Linked DNA regions of Homo sapiens. The main gene of each other region encodes a partner of the protein of the gene in region 4 in a complex. Each region holds a gene or a part of one and is shown on either strand. Other genes may lie near its edges.

Region 1 (7,023 bases), on a different chromosome or scaffold from region 4:
TGCAGGCGAGATGGGGCTTTCTGTGTCTGAGGAAGGCGAGCGGCCCAGCCAGCCGGCCAGTAGTGCCCCCACCGCTAGGGAGTCCTCCTGCCCTGTGGGGCCCCGCCAGGGAAGGCATCAGTGGAGAAGGAGCCCCAGCTGGCTGCATGGCTCCGCAGGGGCCTGTGAGAAAGGGGGAGGAGAGGCCCAGGGCCTGGGAACCGCGGTAGCTCAGGTGGCTTCCTACTCAACAGCCACCTTGGAAGGCTGGTGTCCCTCAGCCTGAGAGTGCAGGATGCAGTTTCTCCACACCTCCGGGACCTGTAAGCCTCTCTCTCCCCGTTTCTAGGCACCCATGTCGTTGGAGAAATATATCCTGGAGAGAAAATGCTCCCTGAGGGAGCCCTGCCCTGGGGTGGCTGTGGGGATGTCAGGGAGGGCCAGGCACTGCCGGGTGCCACCGTGGGCGGGGGTCAGAGTGGAGGCCGAAGCCCTGTGTGCCCTGAGCAACGAGGCAGGTCCTTCCTGCCCCCAGGGAGGGGCTTGTGGGAGGCAGGGACCTTCTGGGGGGCTGCCCGCCGTGCGCACGAGGTAGTTTCCACAGCCCAGCAGCACATCATTTTACATTTTCATCTTTATTCTTGCTTAATACGTGAATCATGGTTTGTCAAGGTTTCAATTGGCGTGACCTTGCTAATGAGATTGTACAGTTCTCCTCGTGCTACACCTTTAAGCACACCTCTCTAATCAGGTTTCTTAAAACTAAGAAGCCTGGAGTTCGGTTCGGCCCCACAGCCGCGTCAGGTGGTGCCGAGGAGGCCGTGCCCTGGGCCGGCCTGGAAATGGGAGGGCAGGCCTGGTGGCTGCATGTGCGTCCTGCCTCGTGCGGGTGGGGCTGAGCTGGGCCTGGGGTGGACTTGGGGCCAGCACTCTGGCTGCCCCTTGGAGAAGCATGGCCCACGCGAGGCGGCAGCCAAGGAGCCCTACGGCGTCCACCACCGAACTTGAAGCTGAGGTGCCCCGACCTGGGGCCCTGTGGCTGCACCTGTCAGGCCGTCTGTGCAACATCCCGCAGCCCACGGTGGGGGGGCAGCAGCAGCTCTGAGCCGAGCCTCTCCTCTTCTCTTCCAGCCTCCCGGCATGGTGCTCAAGGCCTTCTTCCCCACGTGCTGCGTCTCGACGGACAGCGGGCTGCTGGTGGGACGGTGGGTGCCGGAGCAGAGCAGCGCCGTGGTCCTGGCGGTCCTGCACTTTCCCTTCATCCCCATCCAGGTCAAGCAGCTCCTGGCCCAGGTGCGGCAGGCCAGCCAGGTGGGCGTGGCCGTGCTGGGCACCTGGTGCCACTGCCGGCAGGAGCCCGAGGAGAGCCTGGGCCGCTTCCTGGAGAGCCTGGGTGCTGTCTTCCCCCATGAGCCCTGGCTGCGGCTGTGCCGGGAGAGAGGCGGCACGTTCTGGAGCTGCGAGGCCACCCACCGGCAAGCGCCCACTGCCCCCGGTGCCCCTGGTGAGGACCAGGTCATGCTCATCTTCTATGACCAGCGCCAGGTGTTGCTGTCACAGCTACACCTGCCCACCGTCCTGCCCGACCGCCAGGCTGGAGCCACCACTGCCAGCACGGGGGGCCTGGCTGCCGTCTTCGACACGGTAGCACGCAGTGAGGTGCTCTTCCGCAGTGACCGCTTTGATGAGGGCCCCGTGCGGCTGAGCCACTGGCAGTCGGAGGGCGTGGAGGCCAGCATCCTCGCGGAGCTGGCCAGGCGAGCCTCGGGACCCATTTGCCTGCTGTTGGCCAGCCTGCTGTCGCTGGTCTCAGCTGTCAGTGCCTGCCGGTAGGTGTCCCGGGACAGGCAGGTGGCAAAGAGTGGGGTCCCATGAGTGCTGGCCCATCCCTTTGTCTGCAGTGGGCACAGAGGCCCAGATGCGCTCTTCCTGGGCCCGGGCCCCCTCCCACTCCTGCAGCCCGGGCTTTGGCCCCATCCTGCTCTCCCAACCCTCGCCTCTCAGAGGGTGTCCCTCACCCCTGGGGTAGAGCCAGGTCTCTGGGCAGCCTCAGGGATTGCCAGGGGCCCTCCCAGAAGGTGTAGAGGGTGAACCTCAGTGGCTTAGGTCCCTGAAAGAGAAATCAGAAGGTGAGCACAGACATGACTACTGCTGCCTGGGGGTGCTCCTGAGGGCACACAGGCCCGCTGGCCTCCCTGTAGCCCTGCCTGTGCCCCCAGCAGGCCTCTGGACACTGCAGCGCTCATGGGCTGTGGGGGTGTCATCCACTTGCTGGCCCCGTGTGCCTGGGGGAGTGGTCTACAGGCCCTGCTTCTCTCCACAATCACAGGTGCTGCTGGCCAAGGGTCAGTTGAAGCCCAAGGGCCCTGAGGGGCACGGGGGTAGCCCCGAGCTGTGGCTGAGAACAGAGGGCCCCCTTCCACAGGGGACCTCATCTGCCTGGCGGAGGTGCCCCATGGGGAGCAGCTAGGGGTCACCTGCAGTTGCCCCCTGCCTTAGACCCGGGGGTGCATACTCTGGAAGCCTGGGGTGAGAAGCTAGGCCAGCCCAGGAGACCCCGGGCAGCTTTCTGGGCCCTGTCGGCGGGGCGAGGCCCTGGGCCCGTGGGAGTTGCTGCTGGCTGGCAGGCGCTTCTTGGCACCGGCTCTGGGAGCATGTGGTGACCAGGTGGCCCGGGGTCAGCACCTGCGAGGAGGCCAGGCTCCGTGTTAGTCACGTGCACTGTGAGGTGGGCGCGTTGAGCGCTGCCTACCACCACCTGGGCCACCGAGGGCCCCTCCCACCTGCCCCCTGTCCTGCTGAGCTCAGGAGTGTGGCCTGGGTGTTTGTGGTCCCCTGCACAGTGGGGGACGGTGGGAGGAGGATCTGGAGAGGGACACATCACTCCTCTCCACTCCCACGCAGAGTGTTCAAGCTCTGGCCCCTGTCCTTCCTCGGGAGCAAACTCTCCACGTGCGAACAGCTCCGGCACCGGCTGGAGCACCTCACGCTAATCTTCAGTACACGGAAGGCGGAGAACCCTGCCCAGCTGATGAGGTGTGGGCCTGCCCTGGTCTCTGCAGGGCTGGGTGCGTGCCCTCTGGCCCCTTCTCCATCCCCCTCTGCACCACGCTGACCCCTCCGGCCAGGCAGGCCTCCTCCTGCGGCCCCAGGCTGTGCTGGCCACCCTCATGCCGGCCGGGCCGGACCTCCCTTCCAGGAAGGCCAACACGGTGGCCTCTGTGCTGCTGGACGTGGCCCTGGGCCTCATGCTGCTGTCCTGGCTCCACGGGAGAAGCCGCATCGGGCATCTGGCCGACGCCCTCGTTCCTGTGGCTGACGTGAGTGGACTGGGGTGGAGCCCGGTGTCCCGGGTGGGCGTGGGGACCCCTCCTGGGCAGCAGAGCCTTCCCGGGCCAGAGCCACCGCCCCACAAAGCCAGTTCTACCTTCTCCATGCTCTGGAGACACGGCCCTCCCCTGAACCAGAAGCAGGAACTCCAGGGGCGCTGGGGCCTGGGCAGGGCAGGCCTCGCAGGTACACCCCCCTTTCCTTCTGAAGGGGCTGTGTGCAGGAGCCAGCCGGGCTGAGGCTCTGGGGAGCCCGCCTCTCCCTGTGGGCCCAGCGTCCTGGTATCTCCCTTGTGGTCCCTGAGATCAGCGTTGCCCTCCTGGCTCTCTGGGGCCCTCTGCAGAGCCAGGGTCATGAAACCTTTCCTGTCCAGGGAGGCCCATGTGCAGCCCAGCTGGGACTTCCTGCCCTGCCCCTGTGCTGATTCTGTAACTCCTGTGCTGAGAGCCAGAGGCACAGCTTGTCTCCCATCTCCCACCTTCCCTGCATGGTCTGTGCCCCGTTTCCAGCCGGGTGCAGCCCCCTCCTCTGCAGATCTAGTGCATTTCCATGCTGCCTCTGGGCCTTCAGCTTCTCTGTCTTCCTCCCTCAGCACCAAAGCCCCGTCTCTTCCATTAGGAGCTTGTCTTCCTGCTGGGGGTGGTACCTGACTCTTTGGCCCACCCTCGGGCCTCTGTGGAGGCCTCCTTGAGGCCTGACTGGGTGGGTCTTGTGTGGGCTGCAGGTGTGCACTGGGCCTGCTTGTGGCCAGGCCAGGCCTCTGGGGGCAGCATCAGGCACGTCTGTGTGGCTGTGGGGGTGCAGGGAGCTCCAGCCCAGAAGGAAGGAGGGGCGGGGCTGGGGAAGGGGCTCGGCAGCTTTGCCTGTGGTCGTCCGCACCTGCCACCGGCCTACTTTGTCCTAGACCTCCCTTTTGCAAAAGTGCTCAGAAATATAAATATTTAATTTAAAAATGAAAGTCTCTTCCTGCTGCCAAGCTCTTATCCTTTAAATATTAAATAAGCTCTATTTATAAAGAATGTTCTTTTCTCAGCCGGGGGTGGTGGCTCATGCCTGTAATCCCAGCACTTTGGGAGGCCAAGGCGGGCGGATCATGAGGTCAGGAGATCGAGACCATCCTGGCTAACACAGTGAAATCCCGTCTCTACTAAAAATACAAAAAATTAGCCAGGTATGGTGGTGGGCACCTGTAGTCCCAGCTAATTGGGAGGCTGAGGCAAGAGAATGGCGTGAACCCGGGAGGCAGAGCTTGCAGTGAGCCGAGATCTCACCACTGCACTCCAGCCTGGGCGACAAAACAAGACTCCGTCTCAGAAAAAAAAAAAAAAAAAAGTGTTCTTTTCTCCTTCTTGCCAGTCCTGCTGTGGCTGAGGCCTTGGCCCAGGCTTGGAAGGGGCCTGCGCAATGGGCAAGTGGGGGCCAAGGTGTCACTCACTGTCTCCTTAGTGGGGAGGCTGAGGCTCCCTTGGGGTCTGCCCGCTGGGGCACAGCCTCTGGATGCTGAGTTTCTTCCTGGGCGGCCAAGACCCTGCTTCCCTGTTTGCTCTTGGGGGTGCCTGTGCCCTCAACTTGACGCCATCCTCCCTCTGGGGACCTGTCCTCCTGCCTGGTCGCTGTGGCCCTGATGGGCTTGGCACTGTCTCGCTCACCTGTGGTCATCCCGGGCAGCCCCCAGCCTCTGCGATGGGGTGGGGCCTCTGGAGGGGACTGTGTCAGCTGTGGGCTTCCCTGCAGGGCTGGAGCCGAATCAGGGTCTGCCAGGCCTCAGTGCGTCCACGTGTTTGGGGCCGAGGGCTCCAGTGGGTCCTGTGGCCGAGGTAGTGAGAGGGGAGGAAGATGGTAGAGGTGGGTGCAGGCAGGGGGCCACGCGGATGCCCTGTGGGCCCGGCCATGTCACCCAGGCCTGCAGAGAGAGGCCTCCAGACCAGCCTCCTCAGACCCCAATCCCGGAGCCATCTGTGAAGGGGAGCCCGTGTGCTGTCCACGCTAGGACGCGGTAGACCCTGGAGGAGGGAAGGCTGGCCAAGGTGGGAGCCCATCACGAAAGAGCCTGGGGAGATGCAGGTGCTGAGCCTGGCTGCCCCCGCCCCAGCGTGGCCCCTGTGTCCCTGCAGCACGTGGCCGAGGAGCTCCAGCATCTGCTGCAGTGGCTGATGGGTGCTCCCGCCGGGCTCAAGATGAACCGTGCACTGGACCAGGTGCTGGGCCGCTTCTTCCTCTACCACATCCACCTGTGGATCAGTGAGTGCAGGGCAGGCGGGGGCCCCAGGGACCCCAGAGCTTGCTGAAGAGGGTAGGGACCCAGCCAGACCCCGCCCCCTGTGCCCCCAACTCTGCTCCCCAGCGTCCTGTGTGTGTGAGGCCTGCTGTGCTCAGCTGAGGGCTGGGGCCTGGGCACCTCCCGAGGGCTGACCCCACCCTGCCAGGCTACACGCACCTCATGTCCTGTGTGTGTGAGGGTTGTGCTGGGCCGAGGGCTGGGGTCTGAGCGCCTCCTGAGGGCCTACCCCACCCTGCCAGGCTACATCCACCTCATGTCCCCCTTCGTGGAGCACATCCTTTGGCACGTGGGCCTCTCGGCCTGCCTGGGCCTGACGGTGGCCCTGTCCCTCCTCTCGGACATTATCGCCCTCCTCACCTTCCACATCTACTGCTTTTACGTCTATGGAGCCAGGTGGGCGTGGGCTTCCCCCTCCCCACCGCCCCCTGGGAGGTGCAGAGGCTCCGGCTGGGCGGGCGTTCGAGTGGGGCGGGGGCGGGGCGGGGCGGGGCGGGGCCGGGCCCGACAGCACTGCGTCCTGTAGGCTGTACTGCCTGAAGATCCATGGCCTGTCCTCACTGTGGCGTCTGTTCCGGGGGAAGAAGTGGAACGTTCTGCGCCAGCGCGTGGACTCCTGTTCCTATGACCTGGACCAGGTATGGGGCAGGGTTCGTGGCTGGAGGGGCTGACTGCCTCCGGCCTGTGCCCGCTGGGCCAGCGCGGTGCTTGGGCACCACAAGGGGGCAGCCTGCTCCCGTCCTGCAGCTGAGGCCGCGCACAGGCCCTGGGAATAGATAAGTCTGCGGTGTGGGCTGCACGTGGGGCTCTGAAGCAGCGCAGAGCTTCCCTGGGCCACAGAGAAGAGACAGACACACAGCCCCGAAGGTGGTGCAGGCACAGGCCCTAGAGGTGCCCCGGGCCCAGAGACTAGAGATGCCCCGGGCCCGGAGACTAGAGGTGCCCCGGGCCCGGAGACTAGAGGTGCCCCGGGCCCGGAGACTAGAGGTGCCCCGGGCCCGGAGACTAGAGGTGCCCCGGGCCCGGAGACTTGAGGTGCCCCGGGCCCGGAGACTAGAGGTGCCCCGGGCCCGGAGACTAGAGGTGCCCCGGGCCCGGAGACTAGAGGTGCCCCGGGCCCGGAGACTAGAGGTGCCCCGGGCCCGGAGACTTGAGGTGCCCCGGGCCCGGAGACTAGAGGTGCCCCGGGCCCGGAGACTTGAGGTGCCCCGGGCCCGGAGACTAGAGGTGCCCCGGGCCCGGAGACTAGAGGTGCCCCGGGCCCGGAGACTTGAGGTGCCCCGGGCCCGGAGACTAGAGGTGCCCGGGCTCGGAGACTAGAGTTGCCCGGGCCCGTCTGCTGCTCACACTTGCCGCAGCCGCTGGATGCTGCCATGCAGAGCATGTTCTTGGTGACTGTGTGGCCACGCACCGTCTTGGGTGGTCTGGCCCCCACC
Region 2 (7,753 bases), on a different chromosome or scaffold from region 4:
ATGTTATTTCCCTCAATCCGAAATCTCGGCACTCTTTACTGTTATCCCACGATAACAACAATGGCTAAGTTCTGAGCACTCACTGTGGGTTAAGCACAGTTCCAAGCATTCTGTATGCATTAAGATAATCCTCCAAGACAATCCTCCAAGGCAAGTATGCAATTTTAAATGATGAGGAAATGGAAGCTTAGAAAGGATACATCACCTACCCAAGGTAAGCGGCAAAGATAAATTTTAACTACCTACTACATCAGTGATGATGCATTCTTTTCTTAACAAATATGTATTACAGAATTCTGTATGTCAGGTGTGTGAGACACAATATTGAATCCAAAAGAGATGGCTTCTGCCCTCCCTAAACTTAAAATCTAGTGGTGAATAGAGAAAATTGGTATTTTCACTACATTGTTACAAGTGCTCACGAATGAGTAATAAAAGATGACATAGAAGCACATTAGAAGGCCCTCCTTCCACTTCGTATCCTCCTTCCCTTTGCTTAATTTCTCCCCATAGTACGTTATCACCTGATACTATATACGTTTTTCTTATTTAACTTGCCCATTGACTATCTCCCCCCGGCATGAGAATGAAGACTCAAAGCAGGGCATTTTTGGCTGTTTTGGTCCTTCCTGGCCTGTAACAGTGCCTGGCACATGGTAAGCACCAATAAATACTTGAATTACTTTTTGGTTGTGGGTATGATGGAATTTAATTTTGTTTTGAGACAGTTTCGCTCGTTGCCCAGGCTGGAGTGCAAAAGTGCAATCTCAGCTCACGGCAACCTCCGCCTCCCGGGTTCAAGCGATTCTCCTGCCTCAGCCTCCCGAGTAGCTGGAGTTACAGGCATGCGCCACCATCCCGGCTAATTTTGTATTTTTAGTAGAGACAGGGTTTTTCCATGTTGGTCTGGCTGGTCTCAAACTCCCGACCTCAGATGATCTGCCTGCCTCGGCCACCCAAAGTGCCGGGATTACAGGCGTGAGCCACCAGGCCGGCCAGAATTTAAGCCTTAAAGTGATTGCTTTTATTTATTCATATAGCTTCTAATCCTTGACATACTCTTTGAACAAGGATTTACAAAAGTGCTAACAATAACATCAGTAGCTAACACTTATTAAGTCCCTAACTGTTCCTAGGCATTATTTTACGTGCTTTACATAAATTACCCCCGTTAATCCTCACAACAGTCAGAAGAGGCAGCAGAGTGAAGTCAGCCAGTGTATTTGGGTTCAAATTTAGAAGGCTTTTATTTAGTAGCTTTGCAATCTTGAGCAAGTTACTGAAACCACAGGATGCTCATCTTTAAAGGACAGTAATAACAGAACCTACCCCATAGAACTGTTTCATGCGTCATAAGCATTTAATAACCATCATTATCACTACCCTTTTACAGATAAGGAACCTGAGGCTCAAAAAATTTGCTGAGGGTCCCAGCTCACATGGCTAATCTGTGGAGGAGTCAGAATTCGAACTCAGTTGTAACTTCTTCACTTCACTTCAGTTTTAATAGCCTGGCCATTACATTCATCTGCAAGCTGTGCTGATGGTGCAGGCTGATATATTTTAGTTAGGGTTCAGAAGTACTACCACTCCTCCACTTTCCTGGTTTCCAAACAGTTGCAGAACGTTGGATCACGGGCACTCAATTTTCTCCCTTTTGTGTGCCTCAAAATTCTCAAATCATTTTGGGGAGAGACTTGGGACTTGCTGTGTGAGTGGGCATATTAGTGTCTTAGTGAGCATCAGTCTCCTTATCTGTAAAATGGAATGTTATGGGGTTAAATTAAGGGAGATCCAGGACGCAAACGACACACCTTTCAACCCGACTTCTCTGGCCTACTTCTCCTGTTCCCCAGATCCCGCAGGGCACACTGGTGACATCACAAGCTCCTCGGGTCCAAACCCTCTCACGCCCTCATTCAAGGCCTTTCCACTTCTTCCCTCCCTCTTACTCTTTCCTAATCAGCATCAGTGCCAGGGGGAAAGGCCTCTGTAGAAAGCCTTGACTTTCCAGTCTGGTTTCAATGTCTCTCCACCGTGCTCCCTGACACTCATCACACTGAGCATTAACTGTAGATTTACCCATCTGTCTCCTCCACAAGACCACGACCTCCTTAAGGGCAGGGACCAGGCTTTATCCACTTTGCCATCGCGTCTGGTGCTGTATAAATATTTGTAGAGACTAAAACCTCCTAGGCTAGTGCTGGCACACGGAACACTCAGCAAACACGAGATCCCTTCAGATTTTCTTAAAAAGAGACATAGGGAGAAAGAATCAACAGTTCATGTGTGCACAGTCTAACCAATGTATTCTTCCCTTGTCACTGAACGCCAGAAAAAGCCCCTGGCCATCCATCAGGAAAGTACTTACTGAAGCCAAATTGGGAGCTTAAGAAAAGAACAAAGCCATAAATCGCTCTTTCTGGCAATGGCGACGGTGAATTTTCCACCATTTTTCCTGGGGCTTTAGACAATCTGTGGAAAAGGAACACAATCAGCGTCAGCGATGTGCTCCGTGGCACCATTGATCCATTCTCGCCTCCTCGCTCCGCCGCGGGTACGGCCCCCGCCGCGCAGAACCGCCTCCCGCGCCTCCGTCCGCAACCCGCGCCCCCGCCTCGAGCGCATACAGACACCCAGGCTGGCGCGCGCCCCGCAACAGAAGGGGTGGCGGAGGATAGGGCAGGGAGGGGGGTTCTGGGGCGATAGACGCGCGCTCCAGCTCTGCAAGCGTGGCCTCCCTGTGGGAGGGGAGGGCAGGGAACAAGGCTCGCGCGGCGCCCACCAGCATGCGGGCCTACTAGGTCGCGGCGCCCAGGCCCCGGGCCCTGCCCATTCGTGGAGACTTCTATTTCTCATTCGAGGCGGGGTATGGGGGGGCCCTCGACCTCGGGTCCTTCATACGCCCACCCAGGCCCCTCCCGACACCTCGGCCACCTCAGCGCTGAGTTCTCCGCGCAAGCGCCGACTGGGGAGCCGCAGTGGGGAAGAGGAAAACCTGAGGGAAAGGCCTAGGCGCGACGGCAACCCCCACCCTGGCGCAGGCGCACAACGACCCTCCCCGGGTGGGAGCCAGCGAGCGCGGGGGCGGGCGTGATCCCGCGGCTCGCGACGGCGAAGGAGGGGGCGGTGGGGTGCGACTGCGCACGCGCGCTGCCAGCCCACGTGACGCACCTCGCTTCAACGCCGCCACCCGCTCCCTCCCGCCGTCGGCTGACGTGGAGGGCCGGAGGTGGCGGCGGCGGCGGCGGCGGCTGCTGCTGCTGCTGCCCGCGTCCGAGGCTCGCGGGCGGCGGGCCCGGGTGAGTGCACACCCGGCGCGCTGCCGGGCTCCCGGATGTGTCACCTTGTCCCGCTGCAGCCGAGATGCCGGGGGAGCGGGGCCTTCCACACCCCCTCCGTGGGTGTGTGGTGAGTGTGGGTGTGTGCGCGTCTCCTCGCGTCCCTCGCTGAGGTGCCTACTGTGTCTGCATGGGTTGGGTCCCGCGCGATGAGGGGGTGTGGCCGCCATTGCCTACCCCAGTGGGTTTGCCCCCTTGGTCTGGTGCCCCTTCGCGAGCGAGGCCCTGGGATGCCGGTGCGAGGGTGTGAGTAGTCCCTTTGTGCGCAACCCCCCGCTGCCCGTGCCTCGGCCGGTGCGTGGCTGACACCTCCGCTGGGTGGAGGCGCTCGCGTGTCGCCTCGTCGCCCCTTTTGTGTCGGTGTCCGCGCTCCCTGGCGGCTGCGTGGGCGCTCTCGGCCTTGCAGGTGGCCCCCCTTTGTGTTACTGCCCCTGTCTGTGGGCTGCGCGTCCCCTAGCGCGCGTGGCCGCGCCTTCTGCAATTGCGACCCCCGCCTAGAGCCTTGCTCGCGCAAGTGTGCGTCCTTGCGTGTCTCCGAGTGACGCAGAGTGTCTGCGCATGGGTCCTGTTGAGTGCGTGATCTCTTGTGTGCGGATTTAATTCTGTCGAGTGGGTATCTCTTGTGTGCAGGTTTCGTTGGTGAGCGTGAACGTTCGTGCACACCCCTTGCTGTGTGTGCGTGTCACGACTCTGTTGCCACCTGTTTTCGTGTGAACTGGCAGTCCAGTCCAGGGCCTGTCCCCACGGAACGGACCCAGGAGGGGGGTAACCTCGCCGCTCCCCTCGCCCCCGCGCCTCTTTCTGAGCATTCTCTCCCACAGACGCTAATGGGAAGGGGGGTGGACAGGATCGAGTCTGGCCAGCTGCTCCGCAGTGTTGACGCTGCCAGTGTGGCCTCTTCAGCCAGCCTGTTCAGGAGACAGAATAGGGGGATCAAAGATAAAAAATGAAGCCGAGACGTAGGTGAATTTGGGCTGGTACCAGTGCGCCGTGCCTTTTCCAGTGGCGCCCTGGACGCCAAAACCCCCTCAGTTGCAGAGACCTTTCAAAATATATGCACTCTCCTACTGGGCGATGCGGTCCTTAGGCGTTCTTGATGATATTTAATGGTTTATAGAGTATTTTATGGCATTCACCTAAATCTCTTTCCATTTTGCCCAAGATCCTGGCGAGGGAAACAAGGTAGAAATTTTACAGATTTTACTCCTCCGGAGAGAGCCTTTTCCTTATAACTACGACTCTAGTTAGGACATTTTTTGTTGCAAGAAATTTGCGATTTATCCTAAGGAAAATGGGATATAGTATAAGGATACCTAGGGTAAGAAACTTCAAACCCCTTAGAGACCCAGCTACTGCTCCGATTGCTCAAGGTTTCGTGCTCTGCGCTCAAGGGCTGCGTTTTGGTGTCTTTGTTCTGCCCAATTTTCTTATTGTCTAATTTTCCTTTTTTTCTTTTAATTTTTGGAATATTTCAGATATCAAATACAGAGGGGGAGCTAACCAATCCATGATTCAGATTTTACAGACGTGATTATTTAATCTTTTGCCAAATTTACTTCAGATACTCTTTTTTTTTAAAGAAATAAAATTGCTCTCAGTTCCTTCCCCTCCTTTTCTAGAGATAGCCACTGCGTTGAGGTTTGTGTATATCTTTACTTTGCATATTTTATACTTTGATCAAGGTGAATCCATACACAATATATATTATTGTTTGTTTTTAAACTTTAATGGCATTAAAATATACATGCCTTTTTGCAACTTGCTTTTTTTTTTTTTGCTCAGCATCATATTTTGAGGTTTATATATGAACAAATTGAATGATTGTGTTATCTTTGGTTCATTCATTTTAATTGCTGGTATAGAATTGCGTTGTATGAATATACCATATTTATTTATACATTCCCCTGTTGATAGACTTTGAACTTGTTTCAGTTTTTGACTCTTAAAAACAGTCCTGCAATAAATATCTTTGTACTTGTCTGCTTGTGCACACATTTGGAAGTTTCTGTAGGAAGTACACCTAAGTAGTAGATTTGCCGGATTGTAGGCTATGTGCGTCTTCAATTTAACCAAGTATCACAGAAGCTCTCGAAGTGGTTGTACCAATTTTCACTGTCACTGGTGTTGAGTGAGAACACAATTTCCTCACAACCCTGCTAACACTTTATGTTATGAGACTTTACATTTTTGCCATCTCTTTACTGACCAGCTTCCTTATGACTTTTGGTTGCTGCTAAATTTGCTTGTAGCCACCTTGGCTTCTCTTGTAGCCCTGTGTCAGCCTATGGATTTATCTCTTATAGCTAATTGGCTTAGTCTTTATCTCCTTTGGTTCTCATAAGATTAATTCCAATGAACATTTGTTGTATACCTAATGTATGTCAGATCCTATGATTGATGTATAGATAGAATTTCCATGATATGTTAAATATGTACCTCTTTAGTGGCAGGTGAGGTGATTTAATTAAAAGTATTTTTTTTCTTATGATGAATGTTTAAAAAATTTTTCTTTTCCTCTCCATTTTATTGTAGTATTTGATAAATTCAAAATATATGTAAAACATATGCAAGCTGTATAGCAGAACAATAAAATGAACACCTATGAATTCACCACTCAATCCAATAATCAAAATGACCAGTATTGAATGTGCTTACTTCCAGAGGTGACTACCATCCTGAATTGTGTATATTATGCCTTGTTTTTAAAAATAATTTTATCAGATATGTATACATCCCTCAAAAATGTATTGTATGGTTTCTGTTGTTTTTGAGTGGAAAAAATCATATTGGGTATAGTTTCCTGGGACTTGCTTATTTCACTTGATGTTATGTTTCTGAGTTACTAATATTGGGTATAGATGTAAGTCATTAATTTTCACTGCTGTGTAATATTCCAAGTGTGAATATAACACAGTGTATGCATTCTTCTGTTAATGGGCATTTTGGTTGTTTCTAGGTTTTGCTGTTATGAAGTTATATACTTTTTGGTTCACAGTTGTAAGAATTTTTCTAATTTTCACACTGGGGTATATGAGCCCCAGAGGAGTAATGAAGATTTGCTAAGGAATGTGTGGGTACAAATGATGTTAATGAATCAGTTTCTAGATCATTACATTCCATAGGTACTCTTTCCTAAAAATGGTAATGCCTGAGGCCTCCTGCTAGTGCTACTTTCTTACCTTGTGTTTCTAACATTGCACTTTACATAAGACAGGCAAACCACAGGTTCTTGTGGAATCTTACTATGGCATTGCCCAAAGGGGGAAAACTCCCTTGGGGAAAACAAAGGGATTTTTTTTTTTTTTTTTTTTTTTTTTGAGTGAAGTTTTGCTCTTTTTGCCCAGGCTGGAGTGCAATGGCACGATCTCGGCTCACTGCAACCTCTGCCTCCCAAGTTCAAGTGATTCTCTTGCCTCAGCCTCTGAGTAGCTGGGATTACAGGCGCGCACCACCACACCCGGCTAATTTTGTATTTTTAGTAGAGACGGGATTTCACCATGTTGGCTAGGCACGTCTTGAACTCCTGACCTCAGGTGATCTGCCCGACTCGGCCTCCCAAAGTGCTGGGATTACAGGCCACCGCGCCTGGCCTACAAAGGGATAATTTAAAATACCACTATAGTGTTAGGGAAAGCCTCTTTTAATCCTGGCACTTCCCCATCCATTTCCTTAAGAGAGATATTTCCAATAAAGTTGCTTTTTTTTTTATGTTATCAGGGTATATTTTTTGGCCAACCATATGCTGGTAATAATTATACATTTAAAAGAATGAGATAATCAGTTTTACTTTAAAATGTTACTGTGATGTTCTAGAAATTCACCCTTTGCAATTATTTAATCTTATGGTGATATTTTTTAAATGTCATCTTAATGGGTAAAGGGTATGCAATTTTAAAAAGCACTTTTGGTGGTTTGCGAGCAAAAAAAAAAGGTTGAAATACCACCATGTTAATTTGTTCAGCAGCAAAAGAAAAAGAAAAGAGAAAGAAATACTGCCGTATCACTATAGTAAGCTGTTTGCTAGAAATGGGATTGCTAGATCAAGGGGTATGAATGATCAGCTTTACAAAATAATGTCAGATTACTTTCTGAAGGGGTTGTATCAGTTTGTACTTTGGCCAGCAGTTTTGTCTGTTTATATACTTTGATCAACAGTGTGTAAGAGTTACAGTTGATCTACAACCTCTCCAACACTTGTTATTGTCAGACTTAATATTTGCCAATGGAATGGGTATGAAATGATGCATCATTGTGGTTTTAATTTGCATTTTTTGTTATTAATGAGATTGAGCATCTTTTGTATGTTTATGAACTGTCTTTGTTTCCTTTTTATGAAATATCTAGTCATATATTTTACCCTTTGTTCTGATGAGTTGTCTTTTAAAACTGGTAACATCGATTATGTGCGTTGT
Region 3 (6,591 bases), on a different chromosome or scaffold from region 4:
ACACAACACAAGGCTTGTACGTGTAAAGCATCAATTTTAATAAAAAGGCCATTTTCCTGTTTACAAATGGCACTTTAACATTAAATTATCAAAGTTTATTAATATTATTACATACAGACTAGTTTTGGAGAAGATAAAGTTTGATATGTGTAACAAAAGTTAGAAATAATGTTCGCTGTATGAGTTTTAACCCAACTGCTTTATAAGGCTGTTTCTATTAGATCAGTGTTTGGTGATACTAATCTTGAGGTGGAGAACATTAGCAGCAATAAGAATTTAAGTGTAATATAAATAGCAGACTTGGTTTATAAATTAAATTTCTTTTGTAGCATGAGTTTTCACTCCTTTCTTCCCCTCTCATTTAAAAAATCAGGGTGCGTCTTTTGGGAGCTTTAGAACACAAGGATGTTAGAAATGTCTTAGTTCAAGGACATATTTTTCTGAATACCTCCCTTACTGAAGCATTCTGCATGGCGATCGTGGAAGCAGCCAGTTGTGGTTTACAGGTAAAAAGCTTTGAGGGCATTCATGGTTGGGATTTCTGTGTATTTTGAAAAATAATGAGACACATTCCATAATAATGTTTTAACTGGTTTTGTTGATCTTCCTGAGGTATGATTATGGTGGAGTATGTGTTCTTTCTTTCTTTTTAAGGTTGTAAGTACCAGAGTTGGTGGAATTCCTGAGGTGCTTCCAGAAAACCTTATTATTTTATGTGAGCCTTCAGTAAAATCTTTGTGTGAAGGATTGGAAAAGGCTATTTTCCAACTGAAGTCAGGGACATTGCCAGCTCCAGAAAACATCCATAACATAGTAAAGACTTTCTACACCTGGAGGAATGTTGCAGAAAGAACTGAAAAGGTATGTCACATGCTGAGAAAAGATTGTGTCTGAACTCTTACTTGATGTTTCACGTACACATTTGCTTTTTCTTACATAGATGTTTACCATTTTTGTTCTATTGCTTAAGTTGATGAAATCTCTTCCAGGTGAAAAGAAACAGATTTTGGTACACACACCGGGCTAAGTGTCTGGTCAAATTATTGCGTTTGACATTTGAAAATAGCAGTAATACAGTCTAGCCCCCTCATTAAACTGGGCATAAAGAAGTTACAAAATTTTCTAAAAGTCACAATGAGTAGAGACAAGACGAGTATTAAATCTACTCTTAGATATTTTCTTGAAGCTGTTGATAATTCTAAAGCAAACATCTCTATTAGGAAATGCATGGTTTTGCTGATTGCAGCAACTTTATAACTTGTGAATATTTAATTCAGGCTACTTCCTAAACCTCTTGTAGCCCTTTTGCTAACTACTGTGATTTTCTCCAGGAAAAGGATTTTTGCATCTTTGGGCTGATTGAGAACATAGTAAGTTAGAATTCAAAATGTACGTGACAAACGTGGGAAAAATCACAAATAAAAAGCAGCAACAGAGAATTTCCAAAAGGACAGGTATAGGAAATAGATTAACACCCTTAGGTAGGAGATTACAGTTGTGGGAAATGCTTCCTGAATTTGAATTAGGGACTGCTTTCATTCTCAGTTTCATCCTTTACGTCCTTTTCATGATGTTCTCTGCCTCATGCCTCTTATTACCATGTAACAAGCTGAACAGAAACAACTCAGCTTCTTAGTATGTAGAAATTGTGAACCAGAAAGATAACCAGGTGGAACATGGAGAAGGTAGTAGTTTAGAGTAATGCTACCAACGTGATATTCAGTGGAGCAATGAGTTTTTAGCCTAGAGTAGATAGCAAGTTGGAGCTGAGGAGAATAGCTCTTTACTGTAAGGCTTTCTTACTTGGTTTGAATGATGAATTCCAGTATATAAGATGAACTCATATGTGAATGGAAGTTCTAAAAACTTATCTCTAAAAATTGTCTTATACATTTTCCATTGAAACATGAGATGTTTGCGACAGTCAAACATTTTTGACTGAAGCATTTTGAGACATTCTGACCTTCTACAAGTCTTGTACTATCTCTCCCATATGAAACATGGAAAGTTGGAGTCTAGTGCTTACCTGTTGGGAGTACATGTCAGAGTCCCCGGGCAGCCTTTTCAGACTCTCTCTACTCCATCTTGATGTCCCCCTGCCTCCCCAACCACTCCCTAGATTCCAGTGTTATCCTTTAGGAGCAGAGATAGAATTGGGGGTATAATTGGCAGGGATATTTGGTCAGACAGGTTATTTTGATGATACCATCCTGATCTCCACTCCCTTTGAGAACCATGGCACTGTTAAGTTGTGACTTGACCTTCTTCATTGACATCGTATAAACCCCAGAAGCCTGAGCCACTGTAGGTAATAAGTTAACAGGGAAAGAACTGTGGTGACGGTTTGTCAGCATATAGTAAAGGGGCTAATTGGGATTTTTTTGGTAACCACATTTTTCTTTTGGTTAAAGTAATAGTACAGCATCTGTATTTTTTTTAATTCTATGGTGATTTATAATACACTTTTAGAAAAAAGTAAATCCTTGCCTATAATGGATTGTCATCGCTAACATTCTCTTCATAATAGTAAATTGTTATTTTATCACTTAAAACTATAAGTAGATTAATTGACCTGAAATAAAGCTGGACAAAAAAGTCAGTTTGTAGTTACTCTTTTAACCCTATGACATTTTAATTCATTTCAACTCCTCCTTCTTAGTTTAACTGTGCTATTTAGGAAATCGATCATGAAATTAATTTGGAGTTCATGCTGTAAACATACTTCTTCAATTGCAATTCACCAGTCTCAGCATAATTCTCAACATAATTCTGATTAAAATGTTTGTATTCAGAATGTCCTCAGGGTAAAAGAGCTCGATGAAAACATGCCGTACCTTTCAAGGGCTGTTGACCTGTACAACATGCACTGCATGTTATAACTTCCTTGAGTTCAAAAGGAGACGGTTTAAAGGTCTAATATATGAGACTAAGCACAAGTAATACTCAAATTACAAAATATGAATGTTGGCCCATTTGATGTGTTCTGAACAAGTATGTTTAAAGATCTTCGTTTTTTGATATTTTAGAGCTTAGTACTTAGCAGTGTTTTAAAAAGCAAGCCACCTACTTGCTCAGCAAAAAACGTTATTTCATTTGCCAGCATTTGACCTATACTATCTACTGAAATTTCCCCCATCTCTTTATCTTCTTTTATTTGAAATCCATGAAATGCTTCTGCATGTCCTCACCATCCATGCTCAGCAACATGTACAGCCTCATGTGGCTGTTGAAAGAGGAGGCTCTGTGTTCCCAGAAGTATGCTAGATTGTAGCTCTCTGCTTGTGGTTGATGTCTGCCAGATGCCGGTGAGAGCATCTCAGCTTAGTCAAGGAATCTTCAAAGGCAAATCCTGCTTCAGTACTGCTGAAGTCACTGCTGAATTAAATATTGACCCTACAGTGGTGACCCCAAAAGCTGTTCAGACTTTGCGGGACTTTGGAATTCTAGTAGTTGGCTAAAATTGATGGTGACTCCCTAGGGGAGAGGAACTGTGGCTTATTCTTTGTATCACACAGCCTCTAGCCCGGTGTCTTGCCCAGAATAAGTACCCAATAAGTTTTGAATCAAATGGCAATAATTATCGTGATTAAGTTCATTAAGGATATCATTACTATGACAACAACAACAAAACACAAGCAACTTTTGTTTGTATTTGTTTATAAAATGTTCCTGCAGGATCGGGTCATTGTTTATCATGGGACAGGTGATGGGGTGATGGGTGAAAGTGCTCACACTTGGCTTCTCTCCCTCCAGGTATATGACCGGGTATCAGTGGAAGCTGTGTTGCCAATGGACAAACGACTGGACAGACTTATTTCTCACTGCGGCCCAGTAACAGGCTACATCTTTGCTTTGTTGGCAGTTTTCAACTTCCTCTTCCTCATTTTCTTGAGATGGATGACTCCAGATTCTATCATTGATGTTGCAATAGATGCCACTGGGCCACGGGGTGCCTGGACTAATAACTATTCTCACAGTAAAAGAGGGGGTGAGAATAATGAGATATCTGAAACCAGGTAGAAGGAAGCCTAGATTGTAAGATTTTAAACATTTGTAATAGTTCTATAAAGACTATGGAAAATAACCTTGCTTTTGGGGGGTTTTTGTTTTTTTAGAGTTAATTTAGTAAGTTATGCTACCTCTATATCATTCAATATTTTCTGTTGAGGAAAGATAAAAATGTATGCAATTCCTGAGTGTAGAAACTTCTTGCACTTATTTAAAATTTAGGAGAGAACATTTAAGCCACTCAGGTATGCAATTTTTCAGACTACTGAAATCCCTGTAGCAGAGATGTTTTAACATTATATTTTGAGAGCTTTGGGTGCTGAAGGGCCAAACGTTTTCTGGGCATTTTTTGGCCAGTTTTTAATGTAACACCATTAGACACTCACCAGATGTTTACAAGTTTTCTTTAGGGGAACTACAACAATTATATGAACTGTTTTATATCATGTTCATATACATTTATTAGGAATCTAAATCATGTCTTTGAACATTTATTAGGTTCACTCAGTAGGTGTTACATGTAATTAACAGGTTCCTTGAGTAAGATAGTCCATCAGTTACCAGCACATTTTGAACCCCTGCTCTGTGTAGAATGTTGAACTAGATGCTTCCCGCCATTAAGGACCAGGGGTGCATTCACTCTTTGTTTACCATTCAAATGGCTTACTTCATCATAATTGTGGTTGATATGAGATCAATATCCAACATGCCAAAAATGCTCATGCCAGTTAATGCCAGGAAAAAAATCACCGACACACTACTAGTACTTTGTTCCTGTTGTATGCATTCTCCTAGGTAGAGCCTCCATCTTCAGTTGTGTTTGTGAAGGTATTTTTTGCTTTTTAAATACTGGGGACCGATATCACTGTTGATAGTGCAGAGAAACCCTCCACATTTTTCAGTGCATAATTGAGTTTTCTATAAATGCCTTCGTGTTTTCTGAGCAGAATGTACGAGGTGTGCCATCCCAAAACCAGCTGCTACCCTGTCCTTTTAATGTAAGTCACTCCCCTTCACTGTGGCCTCGCTGATGTCTGATAAGTATTGTCAGTGTGCAAAAGGCTTTACTTCAGAATGGTTTATTTATAGCAAACTAAGTTGAAAATTTTAGAAACAGTCTTTGTGGGTGGATGTTATTAACTGTCATTGTTGTTGCCCAGAGCCATGGGTTTTTTAACCCCAAATTATCCACATGGTGTGTATTATGAATTCTTTGAACTCTTAAGGTTTTTGTGAGAAAAGGACTGTGAATTCAAAACAATAAGGCACTTGTGGGTGCACTACATAGATTCTGACAGTGTTGTGATTCTGTATAGGATTTTTAAAAATGACAACATTCACAAAATTTATTACTTTTTAAAAAATAACATGCCTATTAACTGGTTGCACTGATATAAAAGAAATATATTTGTGTTTTGTTTGTACTAAAATGCAAAAGCAAGAGTGCAATTTTTAAAATCTAGAAGTTAGGGGTTTTGTTGGAGAAAAATGGACTGATCTTTAAACTATTCAGTCTTACTGGGATTTTTATGCATAGAAACTCACATATAAACATGAAATAAACAGTGCCAGTATTCATAGGAAAGTGAGAAACTGTAATATTTGGCCATTATTCTATTCAACAGGTTTTAGAGGCATGCCACCATTTTTTCCTTATATTTTTGCTTAATTTTTTTAAATTGTCATTTAATTCTTAAACTGTCATTTATTTGAGATGGAAATAAGATCTAAAGTTAGTTGCCTTTGCCTGTAAAACATGTGATTTGCAAATTATTATTTTTCTTTTTTTTAACAAATGGAAGTAAATTTGTTTCACGTAAATCTTAATTTTCAACCTTTCTGGATACCTTAATTGTAACTGTCAGTTTGCACTGGTCGGTATATGGAAACACATTGCTCTACCCTGCTACTTAGTTGATTTTAAAGTGAATTTACAGTGATGAGAAATTTGTGAAAAATATATTGTATTTCTTTTGATGTTTCAAAAGGTTGCCTATGAAAAACTGATTTGTTAAAACATGCTACATGTCCAAAAATAAAGACCAGAATGACATTTTGATAATTTTCTGAGTTTGTCTTATTTTATGAACAGACTATTATTTACTAGTGGAACAGGCTATCCCTGCCCCCGACACATTCTTTTTCAGTGCAATTTGGATGTGTTGCTTGGTCTATTAGTAAAACAAGAAATACCCTTTGGGCGATGAATTACTCTGTCATTTTTTGTTTCTAGAATATCTTCTCTCTCTCACTCATGGAATAGCGAGTTCAATTGTGCCTTTGTTTCCTTACCCAAATAAGCCCTTGTTTTTCATTGCCCTAGCATTATCACGTGAGACAAGGAAAATATCTACAAACTATACTGTGTATGTGAGCTACATAATTATGCTTTCTACTTTGCCCAACACAAATTTGTAAACTTTCTTAAAACATTATGAGACTTGTGATTTTCTTTCTTTCTTTCTTTCTTTTTTTTTTAGCTCATCAGCTATTAGGGTATTTTCATTTATTTATTTATATATTTTTGAGACGGAGTTTCGCTCTTGTTGCCCAGGCTGGAGTGCAGTGGCACGATCTTGGCTC
Region 4 (6,895 bases):
CGGCATCCTGGGAAAATAAACTGAAATGTGGCTCAAATATGGCTCTAAGCTCAACAGGGTACAATCCACTACTTGCAAGTCTTCCCACCCCTCACTTTCCCAGGAAATGATTCTGTTTTGGGTATTAAGTACCTCTCTAAACACAACTACATTTAGTGCAGTTTTACAACTTCCCTTAGTATCATTAACACTTCTGTGACCAAACAAACAAACGACTACTGCAAACTGGTTTATTTTTTATAGGAAAGTGTCAACATGTTTATTGCTAATATAAGCATTTAATGTCAAAGAAATGAAGGTAATTTTACAAACTCAGTTTTTGTAAGTACATGAAGTTTCTATTTGATTATGTGGTTTTATATCACATTCGTTCAAATGCATTTCTCTCCCTTAGAGGGACTATTCCAACATCACTCCTTTGGAATTATTTCAGTCATCCTTAACATGTGACTTTACCAAAGACCTTGAAGCTAAACAAACAAGCAAAACAAAATTTCAATGACTCTTAGATGAATGGAATAAGAAATAGTCATCACATGTCAATTAGGGATGTTCATCTCCAACCAAGACACTGTCAAAATGTTTCTTCTGATACAGCAGTTATAAGTCAGAGCCTTCAAAAAACAAGGGCAGAACAAGAGTACAATAAAAGAAGCATCTGCAACTTAAGCCTCCCACAGTCCTAAGCCTGATATGCGCAAAGCAAAGCCTCTTTCCCGCAAACTAAATTCCATCCATTTGAGCTTTCAGAGATCGATGCCCAAGAGCTATCATTAATATATACAGCATATTGACTCTAGTTGCATCAATTATGCCTGAAGAGTTTAATACCCATCCAAGTCCAAAGGTGGAAGAATACATACACTGGTATGGTAATAGGCAAGAGCAGGCTGTAAAAGCAAAGGCTGGCTGTGCTAGTGCAGCCCTGTGGGAAGTTTTCTTCCACAGAGGCTGAGTAGAACAGTCCTGCTAAAGAAACCAGTGGAATAAGAACAGTCAACGTAGGAAGAGACAGAAACATTCTTCTCTTCCACTTATTACCTGCCACTGTGTTTTAAAAGGTATATGGTATTAAGAAAAGTTGGCTGTTGCGTTTTTTTAATTTTTTTAAATTATGAACTAGCGCTGCTCCACTTCTTCTTGCTTCTTACTTTGACGTGTCATCCTAGCTGCCTGTGGTATCATATTAGGGATCCCATCAATGATTGGATAAGCTATTCCCAACTCTTCATTAATCAATTCGTTTGTTGATGCTTCATATCTGAGGTGGAAAAAAAAAGAACAAAATGAGTTGTGGGAAAATAAAATGCTTGAAGAGCCTGATTTTCAACAAATACCACCATTTATCCAATTTTTGGTACGGAGTTAATCCCAGAATAGTCTTCTTTAATTCTAAAAGCAACAATAGCCAATTCAACCTTTTATCTTAGAAAAATTCTCTTACAATCTATAATTATTCCCATTTTAGTAGTTTCTCTCATATTCTCTTTTTCACCTTATTCACAAGTTATTCCTTAATTTTTTTTCATACTAGTCAGAAAAGATCCCCCTCTCTTATCCAAATATTCCTTCATTACTTTGGTCAACCCCCAAACCATCCCTGTTAATTTACTACTGGAATAAACACTAGAGAAAAATCAACTTCTTCATTTTAGAATAAATGCTAAGTAGAGAAACTTAACTAATCCATTAGAAGGAAATCACTGGAAAAGGTGAGAGGGCAGAAATGAAGAAACTTTCGAAAGCACTAAGTCTGCAGTGAGCTAGTTATAAACGTAAATCAAATGATAATTTCAAGGTTCGAGAAAATTGAATAATATGTTTATTACGGGAAAAAGAAATACGAAAAATTGCTAGCAATCTACCATTCAAAGATAACCACTGATAACATTTTGGTGTTTATGCGATTTGTAATACTAGCGTTAGTGTTGTCAATATTCAATTTTGGTAGCTTGGAAACTGTAGAGCTGTCTTCCCAAAAACTAGTTAAAGAGGCTTCTACGAAACCTGCTAGGCCACAACTAAGAGCCACTGGGCAGCAAACACAGCTGAATTGCTTAAGATTGTCAGGCACCAGTTGTACAAGACACTTTCACAAGAATCTGGAGGGTACAACAATACTTTTCATTATCTTGGCTTAAAAACCGGAAGGCTTCGGACTTGTCCTGAATCGCAGTGGTTCATAAACCTGGTGGTACATTAGAAATCATTTAGGGACCGTTTAAGAACACAGATAAGCTGGGCGTGGGGGCGGCGCCTGTCTCTCGACTCCTGAGGAGGCTGAGGCGGGAGTTCTAGGCCAGTCTGGGCAACGTAGGGGGCACCCTGTCTCTTAAAAGGAAAAAAAAAAAGGAAAAGAAAATACAAATGTTCAGGTCCCATCCCGCGAGCATTCCAAGTCTGCCCGTCTTGGGGGCTGTCGGGGAATCGGCATTTTTAAAACGGTCCCCGGGTGATTGCAATGCGCAGCCGGTCGCGAACCCTAAAACGCTTCGAGCCATTCCCGCAGGCTGGCGTTGCGTTCTGGGAGATGTGGGACGCAGCTCCCCTGGCCTCCGGTCTCCCCCGTCCTGCCCGCTGTGCGCCCGGCGAGGACAGAGTCCAGAATGTGGCAGCGGAGAGTACCTGACCGACCTACAAGGCCCCAGTGGCTGCAAGAGGCCGCGGTCCACCGCTCCCTTTCCGCCCACCGGGAGGCTGCAAAGGAAGGGCCAAGGCCAGCGAGTTACCTGAGCGGCTTCTTGGAGAGCGGGCACACCAGGAACTCCAGCAGCGCCGGATCGAAGTCGCGGGGCGGCTCCTCAGTCTTCTTGCCCCGGTCGGCCAAAGGCCGCGACCCCGACGCGTGCAGGCACCTACGGGCGACCGCGGACGGCGGCGCGCGCGTTCCCCGCAGCGCTGAGGCGAGCCTGCAGCGTGCTCCACTCAGCATGGTCTGGCAGCCGGAGACCAGGCCTCACCGCAGCCTCGCCACCCGTGGCCGAGCTCCCGGCTTCCCGTTCGTCCAGGCCAGCCGGGCAGGCCCCGCCCCCTGGTCCTCCAGGAAACGCTGCCGAGGAGTAGGCGGGGCGGGCGCTTTGGTTCCGAGGGTGCTTCTGCTCCGACTGCTTTTCCCACGGGCGTCATCTATAGTCCGGAGGACAGCCCCAGGGCAGAGGCCTCTGGTGAGTGCCCCGCCGCCTTACCAGACTACAAACTAAACCAGTGTTTAAGTCAAGGTGTCTGGGTTTTCACCGGGGCCTGTCCAAGGATGCTAGGAAGCCAGTGGCCAGGCCTCAGAGTTGTAGGGAGTTAGGCTTGGACCTACGTGGTTACCTCCAAGTGAAGTTTCAAACACACTGTTATGTATTGTACCGAATGTATTGTCATGGATGTATTGAAAGCGCTCATTTGTTTCATGTACATCTTTACTATACCATTAGTTTCTGTAACCTTGTTTGGCTTTTTTCTCTCTCATTAAAAAAAGTGAGAACCTGGAAGGAAGGGCCTAGGCCTCTGACCCTCCAAAATATATAAATTCTTCCTGCCTGAGACCCAGTCATTGTGAAGTATTTGCGTAATAAAGCACAGCTAATTTACTTCTATAAATGAGCTTGGAGGCCGCAAGGGGCCTAAATAGCTGTGTAACAGGCAGATGTGATCTGCCTGTTAAAGATCCATTCAATGAGTGGGTGATCCATTCAGTGAATTTGTATCCCAGGTTTGCTTCCCACTCTCCAAGAAAGTGACCATGTTAGATCTCTTTCTTACAGTGTAGTAGATGGGAACTTGGGCTCTGGGGCCTGACAGCTTGGTTCCCTGTCCACAATTAGTAGCTGGATGACTTTGGCAAATGACTTAACTGCTCATTTTCCTTATCTGTATAAGACTAATAATTGTACCTACCTTGTAGGTAGGGCATAAATGTGATTGTGCATTCGAAGAACATTTAGAAAAGTGCCTGGCACAAATTAATGCTCCATTAATGTTGTCTATTTTTATTTTTAGTTCATCTAGTTTTTCCATGTCCGAAGACTCAAAGATTCTCATTAGTCATCCATTTTTTCCCTCCGTTCTGCTGAATATCAACCTGAACTTTTTTTTTGCATCACTGGGCATTATCATTTCACACTTTGAGTTCCTGGAGCTGGAAGTACAGAATCCAAAAATATGTTTATATTTTCAAATTTCTCTTCCACTCCAATGTAAAAATAAACTGACAAATGTTTATATGTTCATCCTAATTTTTTGTTTGTTTTTTGGGCCATCCTGTTTTTTTTAAAAAAAACAGTTTATTTTTTGATGTTCTTTGTTCACTAATGCTCAGAAGATTTTCTAAGGTTAATGTAGTTTATAGGATACCAAAAAGGAAACACTTCTACTGGATAGATATTTAAGAGATAATGAAAGTCTCTGGTTGCCTCACCTTCCTTCCCTCACAAAGCAATCTTTCACAGTCATAACTTTCCGTTATTAGAGTTACTAACGGACTAGAGAATAGGGCAGTTATCGGGACATACCCTCAAGGGAAACTACTGTAAAGTTCCTATGTCACCTTCACACTATTTCCGACTAGGGCAGTAGCAGGAATTAATTTTTCAGTTGAAGTCAGTTGATACTTTGGGCTCAAGGGAAGGGGTGAGCTGTAGGAAAGATAAGTTTCTGCTTAAGGAGAAACAGCGCTTGACTTCTGCAAGCGCTGAGTGGGCCCAACCCTTGGCGCTTGTTGGGTAGGGGAAGGCACCCATGCTTAAGCCTCAGCTAGCTTGGCTGACAGATCTCTATCAACTGGGTTTTCTAACCAGTTATAAATAAATTAGTTTCAGTTTGCCTCCACATAGAGGGTTTGAGGCAGTTCAGTTTACTTTATTTAGGGGAAGAATAGAGAGTAACAGCAAAGTATTGAAAACATCCTCAAATTTATAACACCAGAAATCAACAACCAATATTTAAGGAACATATGAATGTATGACTATCACCATGTGTGTATTAAGTTGCAACATATCAAAGCAATATGTCCCTAAATAGCCCTTAGTAATGAAGAAATACAATTCATTTCTGCCTGTAGTATACTAAGCTAAATGTAGATGATAGGATAGGATCATGGGACTGGAACTGGTCTTTTAAAAGTTAGTCCCTTTTCACTATTCACATGACTGACCTTTCGTGTCACATAGGCCTGTGCACAATAACCTGATGGTTTCTGGGCTCAGATACAATATAGCTGTGTGATCTTGGAGAAGCTACTTAAGTTCTCACCCTCAACCTTCTCACTTGTGAAATACAATAATAATAGTATGTAACTTACAGTGTTTGAACAGACTAAATAAAACAATTCAAGTAAAACAGCACAGGGGCTAACACATTTAAAGAATGTTTAGCAATAAAATTATTTATTATGGTGAAACTAGTAAACATTCTGATGGAAAGGGAAAGCACAAGGTACTTCTGGGACACTCTTTTTAACTGAAATGGAATTTTTCTAATTTCCAATATGGATACTATTGAAACACAATTCTTGGATTATCACACACATGAAGTTAGAAATCTCTAGGCAGAAGAGGGGCTGGACTATGTATTTTAACAGAGCCTGTCAATTCCAAATTTGGGGGCATTGAAATTTGTGAACCTGCAATCCAAAGAAATGAGTCAAAATAAATTTTCCACTAGATGGCATCATTTAGTATTTGAACTAACATTTATCTCTGCTTGATCTTTTCTTTCTGTGATTACAAAGACTTACTTTCATTTTGCCAATTGTTTCTTAGTTTGACAACACTTATTTTTTATTTTTATTTTATTTTCTTGAGACAGATTCTCTCTGTGTCATCCAGGCTGGAGTACAGTGGTGCAGTCGTGACTCACTGCAGCCTTGACCTCCCAGACTCAAGCAATCCTGGCATGTCAGCCTCCAGGTAGCTGGGAATACAGGTGCATGCCACCACACCCAGCTAATTTTTGTATTTTTTGTAGAGATGGTGTTTCATGTTGCCCAGGCTGGTCTGGAACTCCTGAGCTCAAGCAGTCCACCCACCTTGGCCTCCCAAAGTGCTAGGATTACAGGCATAAGCCACTGTGCCCAGCCCAACATTTATTTTAAAAACAAAAATCATAAAAGTCCTATTAATAAATTTTAATGATGAGTTTATTAAAATCAAGTTTCCAATAGATAAATGGACAAAATATTTGAAAAGAAAAATTCGCAAAAAAGAAAATACAGTTGGTCAATAAACATATTAAAAAATTATCCTCAATAGTAAAGTAGTAATGCTAGTTTCAAACATCAAAGGAGTTTTGAAATAACTCTAGACATGAATGTTACCAGCCTTGTTTTGGCCATCTGAAGGATAATCACAAATTCTGTCTGAAGGGCTGAGGACTAGTGCCTGCAAAAGGACCAGAATATCCCAGCATGGGCACAAGTAGCTTGAAATTATGGAAGTATGTCCTGTCTTTCTTTCTTTTCTTTCTTTCTTTCTTACTCTCTCTCACTTTCTCTCTTTCTTTCTTTTTTTTTTTTTTGAGACAGGATCTTGCTCTATCTCCCAGGCTGGAGTGCAGTGGCTCCATCATAGCTGACTGCAGCCTTCACCTTCTGAGCTCAAACAATCCTCCCACCTCAGCTTCCTGAGTAGCTGGGACCATAGGCACACACATGCACCACCACACCTGGCTAATTTCTAAAATTTTTTTTGTAAAGTCAGGGTCTCACTATGTTGCCCAGGCTGGTCTTGAACTCCTGGGCTCAAGTGATCCTCCCGCCTCAGCCTCCCAAAGTCCTGGGATTACAGGCGTGAGCTACCACGCACAGCCCAACTTGCTCTTTTGGTTCTGTGGCTGCTGCAGTTATGGGGATGTACCCGCTGATCCACAACAGTTTGGGAGTGCTCTTCCATAAGCTCCCCTCCCTCATGCC

Evidence for each region.
Region 1: PIGY (region 4) and PIGQ share a complex: the UniProt entries of both Homo sapiens proteins name them as parts of the glycosylphosphatidylinositol-N-acetylglucosaminyltransferase (GPI-GnT) complex.
Region 2: PIGY (region 4) and PIGP share a complex: the UniProt entries of both Homo sapiens proteins name them as parts of the glycosylphosphatidylinositol-N-acetylglucosaminyltransferase (GPI-GnT) complex.
Region 3: PIGY (region 4) and PIGA share a complex: the UniProt entries of both Homo sapiens proteins name them as parts of the glycosylphosphatidylinositol-N-acetylglucosaminyltransferase (GPI-GnT) complex.

The regions. Positions count from the first base shown.
Region 1 is NC_000016.10:572,956-579,978, forward strand, and holds part of PIGQ (phosphatidylinositol N-acetylglucosaminyltransferase subunit Q), read left to right. Parts: intron 1-1,110; 5' UTR 1,111-1,119; coding exon 1,120-1,808; intron 1,809-2,883; coding exon 2,884-3,015; intron 3,016-3,178; coding exon 3,179-3,299; intron 3,300-5,423; coding exon 5,424-5,550; intron 5,551-5,829; coding exon 5,830-5,983; intron 5,984-6,113; coding exon 6,114-6,225; intron 6,226-7,023. UniProt on the Homo sapiens protein: Part of the glycosylphosphatidylinositol-N-acetylglucosaminyltransferase (GPI-GnT) complex that catalyzes the transfer of N-acetylglucosamine from UDP-N-acetylglucosamine to phosphatidylinositol and participates in the first step of GPI biosynthesis.
Region 2 is NC_000021.9:37,070,063-37,077,815, forward strand, and holds the start of PIGP (phosphatidylinositol N-acetylglucosaminyltransferase subunit P), read right to left. Parts: upstream 3,010-7,753; 5' UTR 2,938-3,009; exon of another isoform or gene 2,786-2,937; intron 2,742-2,785; exon of another isoform or gene 2,526-2,741; coding exon of another isoform or gene 2,454-2,525; coding exon 2,372-2,453; intron 2,249-2,371; exon of another isoform or gene 2,087-2,248; coding exon of another isoform or gene 2,083-2,086; intron 1-2,082. Other genes in the region: E3 ubiquitin-protein ligase TTC3, read left to right, coding at 3,367-3,421. UniProt on the Homo sapiens protein: Part of the glycosylphosphatidylinositol-N-acetylglucosaminyltransferase (GPI-GnT) complex that catalyzes the transfer of N-acetylglucosamine from UDP-N-acetylglucosamine to phosphatidylinositol and participates in the first step of GPI biosynthesis.
Region 3 is NC_000023.11:15,318,935-15,325,525, reverse strand, and holds the end of PIGA (phosphatidylinositol N-acetylglucosaminyltransferase subunit A), read left to right. Parts: intron 1-373; coding exon 374-506; intron 507-654; coding exon 655-861; intron 862-3,753; coding exon 3,754-4,020; 3' UTR 4,021-6,070; downstream 6,071-6,591. UniProt on the Homo sapiens protein: Catalytic subunit of the glycosylphosphatidylinositol-N-acetylglucosaminyltransferase (GPI-GnT) complex that catalyzes the transfer of N-acetylglucosamine from UDP-N-acetylglucosamine to phosphatidylinositol and participates in the first step of GPI biosynthesis.
Region 4 is NC_000004.12:88,520,769-88,527,663, forward strand, and holds PIGY (phosphatidylinositol N-acetylglucosaminyltransferase subunit Y), read right to left. Parts: upstream 3,009-6,895; 5' UTR 2,933-3,008; coding exon of another isoform or gene 2,730-2,932; intron 1,262-2,729; coding exon of another isoform or gene 1,120-1,261; 5' UTR 1,022-1,119; coding exon 806-1,021; 3' UTR 230-805; downstream 1-229. Other genes in the region: PYURF (protein preY, mitochondrial precursor), read right to left, coding at 1,120-1,261, 2,730-2,932. UniProt on the Homo sapiens protein: Part of the glycosylphosphatidylinositol-N-acetylglucosaminyltransferase (GPI-GnT) complex that catalyzes the transfer of N-acetylglucosamine from UDP-N-acetylglucosamine to phosphatidylinositol and participates in the first step of GPI biosynthesis.